Homo sapiens: one gene and its partner. The protein of the gene in region 2 purifies or fractionates together with the protein of the main gene of each other region. This does not show direct contact. Each region holds a gene or a part of one and is shown on either strand. Other genes may lie near its edges.

Region 1 (3,821 bases), on a different chromosome or scaffold from region 2:
TGAAAGTCAAAGTACACATTACACAAGACTTCTGGCTTCTCAAGCCAAGTCAAAGCACGACTCAGGTGAGCTGTTTGATCCTAAAACCTCTATGTTGTAATGTCCAAGGCTAAAATCATCATCACCAGCAGACAGCAGCCCCATCTGTTCTTCCTTCCCATGCCAACCTCAAGAGGTTCAACACCCCAGCACACCAAGCACACTGCTGCTGGATGTTTGTTCATTAAACAAATATGTATCGAGCATCTGCTCTGTGTCAGGCCCGAGACTAGGAATTAGAAAAAAAGAGGGACAGCCAGGCACGATGGCTCACGCCTGTAATCCCAACACTTTGGGAGGGCAAGGTGGGCAGATCACAAGGTCAGGAGTTCAAGACCAGCCTGGCCAACATGGTGAAATCCCATCTCTACTAAAAATACAAAAAGTAACTGGGCATGGTGGTGCGTGCCTGTAATCCCAGCTACTTGCGAGACTGAGGCAGGAGAATCGCTTGAACCCAGGAGGTGGAGGTTGCAGTGAGCCAAGACCACACCACTGCACTCCAGCCTGGCGACAGAGAGAGACTCCGTCTCAAAAAAACAAAAAAAGAAGGAAAAAAAAAAAGAAAAAAAGGGGGAGAAAAACCCTCAGTTTAGTCCAACTGGGGAAGAGGGAGAGAGGCTCAGGAGACCGGGGTTTGAGTTCTAGCTTCAAGTCCTGAGGGAGTCACTTCACCAAAAAAAGGAGGGGTCCATATGAGATTATCTCTAAAGATCCCTTCAGCTCTGTGTTAATGTACACGCCTAGAACTGCAAAGTTCCACTAGCCCCAAAGTCAGGGTCTCTAGGTTTGGCCTGATGTCATGGTGAGGCGGCTGTCAGCAGCAATAGTCCTGGGGATGGGCCTATCTGTACAAGGGACCACCTGTATGTAGCAGGAATGTACCTACCTCTATGTAGCCTACATCCCCCAAGAACCCTAACAGCAAACGGCTGCCTTCCAGCCATTAGATTACCAGGGAGTGGGGATGCTGTAGCCCCACTTTGGAGGCACAGCTTACTGAAAGTGAAAGTACAAGGGAACTGGTGGAGAGAGAAAAAACTTTATGACTTCAAAGCTCTTTCACAAGTTGGGCGCGGTGGCTCACGCCTGTAATCCCAGCACTTTGGGAGACCGAGGTGGCAGAATTGCTTGAGCCCTGGAGTTTGAGACCACCCTGGGCAACATAGCAAGATCTTGTCAGTACAAATAGTAAAAAAATTAGCCAGGTGGGTGGATCACGAGGTCAGGAGATCCAGAACATCCTGGCTAACATGGTGAAACTCTGTCTCTACTAGAAAAAAAATACAAAAAATTAGCCGGGCGTGGTGGCAGGCGCCTGTAGTCCCAGCTACTCACAAGGCTGAGGCAGGAGAATGGCACGAACCCAGGAGGTGGAGGTTGCAGTCAGCCGAGATCGCGCCACTGCACTCCAGCCTGGGTGACAGAGCAAGACTCCGTCTCAAAAAAAACAAAAATGGCCGGGCGCGGTGGCTCACGCCTGTAATCCCAGCACTTTGAGAGGCCGAGGCAGGCGGATCACGAGGTCAGGAGATCAAGACTATCTTGGCTAACATGGTGAAACCCCGTCTCTACTAAAAATACAAAAAATAATCCGGGCATGGTGGCAGGCGCCTGTAGTCCCAGTTACTCGGAAAGCTGAGGCAGGAGAATGGCGTGAACCCAGGAGGCGGAGCTTGCAGTGAGCCAAGATCATGCCACTGCACTCCAGCCTGGGCGACAGAGACCTTGTGTCAACAAACAAACAAAAACAAAAACAGCTCTTTCACAGATATTACGATTTCCCTGAGAGGTAGGCTGGGGAGAAGTGACAGGCTTTGGTGAGAGTGCTGATCACTGGCATGGTGCTGTAGTGCCACAAACTGCTGTGTCTAGAAAAATGAGAACCATCTTATTCACAATATTATCATTATTATCAAAAAGTCTCTGGAATTCCAGACCCAACCGTAACCTTAATTCACTTTTGCCTGAGTTCAGTTCCTTTTCTGTAAAAAAGCAGTATCTACCCTGCCTACTCAACTGAGGTGTTGTGAGGATCAAAAGCTATACTGTATTTGGAAGCAATCTATAAAATGGAAAACGTTACGCCACGTGCGGTGGCTCACACCTGTAATCCCAGCACTTTGGGAGGCCAAGGTGGGTGGATCACCTGAGGTCAGGAGTTGAAGACCAGCCTGGCCAATATGGTGAAACCCCATCTCTACTAAAATACAAAAATTAGCCGGGAATGATGGCGAGTGCCTGTAATCCCAGCTACTCAGAAGGCTGAGATGGGAGAATCGCTTGAACCTGGGAAATAGTGGTTGCAGTAAGCCGAAATTGCGCCACTGCACTCCAGCCTGGGTGGCTGAGGGAGACTCCGTCTAAAAAAAAAAAAAAAGGAAAACCTTGAAGGAACAGAATGGATAATATTACTTTTAAGTTGTTTAGCTGAAAGTTTTCTTCTTTTTTTCTGGTTCTGTCCAGACTGGAGTGCAGTGGGACAATCACTTAAGCAGCCTTAAACTCCGAGGCTCAAGTAATCCTCCTGCCTCAGCCTCCCAAGTAACTGGGACTACAGTTGCACACCAGCATGCCCAGTTAATTTCTTTTTTTTTCTTTTTTGAGACAGAGTCTCACTCTGTCGCCCAGGCTGGAGCGCTGTGGCGCAATCTCAGCTCACTGCAGCTTCCACCTCCCAAGTTCCTGCAATTCTCCTGCCTCAGCCTCCTGGGTAACCTGGATTACAGGTAAGTGCCACCACACCCAGCTAATGTTTGTATTTTTAATAGAGACAGGGTTTCACCATGTTCCTCAGCCTGGTCTCGAACTCCTGACCTCAGGTGATCTGCCAGCCTCAGCCTCCCAAAGTGCTAGGATTACAGGCATGAGCCACCGCGCCCAGCTAATTTCTGTTTTTGTTATAAATGGAGTATTGCCATGCTGCCCACGCTGGTCTCGAACTCCTGGCCTCAATCTCCCAAGGTGTTGGGATGGCATGAGCCACCATGCCCAGCCAAAGTTTTCTCCTTATGAGGAAAATACAATAGAGATGTACAAAGTGAACAGGAGATCCTGACTCCAGCTACTTTCCAAAAGACACATGAATTTCCCATTTTTGCTTACTAATTCACCATAATGAATGCATACTATGTGCCAAGAATCAAAATGAATGACAGCCTATGTCCTTCCTGAGGAGACTATCATATGCAGAATTAACTGCAGTATTGTGTAAAAGGACTGAATATATTAACTATGAGTCTATGAAGGCTGAAACTATTAAAAGCTGTATCCCCACATTCATTTGTTTACCCCCATTTATTTATTCAATCTAAATTTATATTTATTCGATATAAATTCAATATATTTATTCAACATAAACTCATTGATTTATTCACTGGAGGGCTATATGGGATACAGAGGTAGCACAAAGGCAGAACCTCAGGTTTCACTTACTAACAGGAGCTGTAAAGGTCTTGGGTGCCTTAAATCACGCTGTGGCTCCAGCCACTCCACAGGAATTTTTTTTTTTTTTTTTTTTTTTTGAGACAGGGTCTCCCTCTCTGTCACCCAGGCTGGAGCGCAGGCAATGGTGCAATCACTTGGCCTTCCAGGCTCAGGTGTTCCTCCCACCTCAGCCTCCGGAGTAGCTAGGACTACAGGCATGTGCCACCAAACCCGACTAATTTTTTTGTATTTAAAAAAAATTTTTGAGGCCGGGTAGGGTGGCTCACGCCTATAATCCCAGTACTTTGGGAGGTCGAGGCGGGTGGATCACAAGGTCAGGAGATCAAGACCATCCT
Region 2 (3,821 bases):
TTTCTAGGCACTAGTAGCATTCAGGAAAAAAATAGAGAATACATAATCCAGAAGACCATCCATAAATGGATCCCAAACAGCATCATCCCATGTTGCTATACCATACTCTGAAAATATTATCAAGCACAGCAGTAGCAATTACATCCTCCCTTCAGCATGGGTGAGCTGGGTCAGCAGAGAATGCAGACCAGCTGGCAGAGAGTCTCACACAAAAATGAGCTCACTATCAGCAATCCAGCTGAACACTGGAGAATGCAAATTAAAAAATGAACAAAAAATTTGCAAAGGAGAGTCCACAGAACAAACAAAAAAGCAGCGTTAAATATAATTATTATCCTTGGAAAGATAAAGAAAAGCAGAACCATGAAATGAAAGAACTGTTATAAAAATCCAACATATTTTAAAAATATTTTAAAATTATGTACATATTTGTATATAGTAAATATGTTTAAAGTACATATTTTTAATAGAAAGAAATTGTTGAAACATTTATTAGAAGGACTGAATAAGCAACTCAATTACAAGTTTTAGAGAAATACATTAAACAGAGAAATTATCCCAGAACTTAGAATGAAGAAATGAAAAGTATAAAAGAAATGTTAAGAGACAAATGAATCCAACTGGAAGTTTCATCGTCTTAAAGTTCCATAAGAAGAGAATAGAAAGAATGGTAGAAAGTCAATATTTAAAGTAGGAGCTGAGAATTCCTAGAATTAAAAATACACATAAGTTGATAAGGCAAAAAAGCCTATCATCTACTAAGGAAGATAAGTAAGTTAAACAAACATCTGCACACATGTACATATATCTCTTCAGAGGGAACAGTACAATTTCTGAAATATTAACGTAGAAAAATAACAAATGCAACTAGAAAAAAATATTATTAATCAAAGGATTAAGAAGCAGAATAATATAATACTTCTATCAGCATTAGTGGGTGTAAGAGAACAGTGAAGCAGTATCTTCAAAGGCCTAGAATTTTGTGCCTAGAATTTTATATCTAGCTAAACTAACCTGCATTTAACATGACAATCAGAGGACATTTTTGGATATGCAAGCACTCAAAGTTTGCACCAAAGTTTACCAACATGGGTGTACTGCAGCAAGGAAAAAACAAACTATTCACGACAGCAGTGATATCTAAGAAACATTGTTGGGAAAATTTTTACAATTTTTTTGTTTCCCAAATAAGAAATGAGCAAGGAAAAAGTTATTTACTAACAATCTAAGAAGTTAAAGGAAAAATAACATGAGAGGTGGCGAGTGGGAATCTGAGAAAAGTAAAAATATCTTAAGCTTCTTAACTTGGCAACAAAGGGACTTAGAAACTAGAAACTGATTTTTTTTTCTAACTGCTTCTAAAATTAATAAGTTTTAAAATTTAAAATAATTAGAAGAGCAAACTGGTAGAGGGAAAAATAAAGTATATGTATACACAGACATAGCAGAAGGCATAGGAGGGCTGTAGAACTACTCATGCAGGTCTAAATGCCCTGTCTACTTGTTCCTCTATAGCTCGAGCATTGCCTCCATCTAGACCATTCTTAAAAACCTCACATCTCTCCTTCTCCCCACCCATGATCCCACCATATACTGAACAAATTTATACTACAGTATCTATAATACTTCATTATGTTTGTTGTTTACAAACCAATCTTGCTCATTAGGCATAAACTCTTAAGGACTAGAATAGCCTCCTTCTCATTTCTACATCCCTTCCTATATCACAGTTACTCAATGTTTGTTGAGTGGATGAAAATAGAGGCAATTTTTACATACTTAAAACAACTAGAGAATTGATTGTACATGACCAAGGTTATAACTTATAATAAATTATTTGTTGCAAGAGGCTAAAAACCATGTCTAAGTTACTACTGCATTTCTGACAAAGTCATTCTTGGATATTTTTGTTAAGTTTAGAAATCAACTGAAATCAGGATGTAGGAGGATGTACTAGACAATATTAAGGTGTCTTCCATCTCCAAACTCAAAGTTTAGAGAATAACTTTAAGAGACACTTTGACTGATAGTCCCTGAAATCGTACAACACCTGCAGAAGCTCTATGTCTTCATGGTTTTCAGACCCAGGAGTATTCTCCATCAATATGGCGGACATCACTCGCACATTCATTTTCACCATATCCAATTCACTGTGCAGTTTTCCAATCTGTAGAGAGCAACACAATCACCAGTCAGTGCGACACACAAAGAATAACTACCTTGTTTCCTGCCCCCATGGGACATTTGCTGGATGAAAAAATGCTTTTGCAAAATTTAATATTTTCAAACTTAAATTTAATTTCATATAAATATACATATAGTTATTTTACAAATGTATACCTTGTCACCTTCTAAAAGGACTTGAGATCTCTTGTAATAAACCCCAAAATATGCTTTAGGAATTTTAAAAATGAAAGGAAAAAAAAAGATTAGAACCCAATATGGAGAGGGGAGAAGTACCAGGTACCTAGCAGAAGAAGGTACCAGAAACCTGGATAAAATGGCAAAAGTTATCCTGAGTTTCTTGGCAACCAATAGGGTAAAAGAAAAACAAATGAGGGTTATCCAGTTCTCATGGTATTAAAGAAGAAGGAATAAAGAAACACCTTTTCTTCCTGTATTAAATTCTAAGAGGAATTAGTCACATGCATTTTTATATAAGAAAAAAATAATACAACAAAATCTTCAATTATAGTTCCTTTACAGCAGAACGGAAATTAGCCTCATATAATAATTGTTTATCGGTACCTTGGATAAACTGATATACACAAAGAAGTAAATACAATTCAGTTGGCATAATAAATACAAGTAATAAGACTACCATTTACTAAACTCTCTGAAATATGTGACAGTCCTACCAGAAGTAACAGGAATTAGCTGATGGACCCTAGATCCAGTCCACAGTCAAGGCTCCAGAAAGCCATGAAAGCCGCTAGGCAAGCACAACTCTTACAAAGTTGGGCTTTGGAAGCAGACAGAACCCATGGGATTACTCCTTCTTGGAACTGAACTATGGTAAGTCACATAGTATTACTAAGCCTCAGTCTCTTCCTCTGTGAAATGAGTGTACCTACATCTCAATGTTGTTAACCAGAAAAGACAAACTGTATATAAGGTGCTTACAAATCAGGAAAAGACATCAATTAAATGCAATGATTGTTGTTGTTACCTGTTCTGGGACCAATGTAACAGTCGAGTTCTTTGGAGCAATTACAGAAGAAAGAGCTGGTGCAGTAGGGACAGATGTTGGAGGATTTGATGAGATTTGAGCAGTCTATGAGTATGAAACATGGTAATATTATTATGTGAATTAACATAGCCACCCAACGCCAAGTTTTTTCCATTCAGCTAACTCAAGCACTCTCAAAGTCCTGTGTACAGGGTATCTGCCCAGAGTAAATCATCAGCTACACAACCCGTCCAGCATTTTGTGAAGAATGCTAAGCAAATGACATGCCCATAATAAAGCAGGTATTCAACAAAAGGTGGCTATTAGGATTATCATTTACAATTTAATAAAATGCCCTTTTTTTTTTTTTTTTAACCAAGGGTCTAAGTGATAAACTGCCATGTGAGATTATTGATGCCTTCTCTTTGGGTTGTTAATAACAAATGGTAGCTCAATTCATGTCAAGTCCTTTTAAGCCACAGCTGACAAGGCATCTCCTTCTCCATCAATGACCCTCCTTGGGTCAATGCCACATCTCCAACCTTGGGTGGAGAGGTGAAAGCTCAAGGCTCTAGGCCAGTGCTTCTCAACATTAATGTGCAGAGAAAACACCTGGAAATCTTGTAAAAAGGGAGGTTCTGATTAGTCTAGG

Evidence for each region.
Region 1: the proteins of TOM1L1 (region 2) and AARS1 fractionate together in Homo sapiens (co-fractionation; one large-scale study listed by BioGRID). This does not show direct contact.

The regions. Positions count from the first base shown.
Region 1 is NC_000016.10:70,282,824-70,286,644, forward strand, and holds part of AARS1 (alanine--tRNA ligase, cytoplasmic), read right to left. Parts: intron 1-3,821. UniProt on the Homo sapiens protein: Catalyzes the attachment of alanine to tRNA(Ala) in a two-step reaction: alanine is first activated by ATP to form Ala-AMP and then transferred to the acceptor end of tRNA(Ala). Also edits incorrectly charged tRNA(Ala) via its editing domain.
Region 2 is NC_000017.11:54,914,092-54,917,912, reverse strand, and holds part of TOM1L1 (TOM1-like protein 1), read right to left. Parts: intron 3,275-3,821; coding exon 3,170-3,274; intron 2,168-3,169; coding exon 2,051-2,167; intron 1-2,050. UniProt on the Homo sapiens protein: Probable adapter protein involved in signaling pathways. Interacts with the SH2 and SH3 domains of various signaling proteins when it is phosphorylated. May promote FYN activation, possibly by disrupting intramolecular SH3-dependent interactions.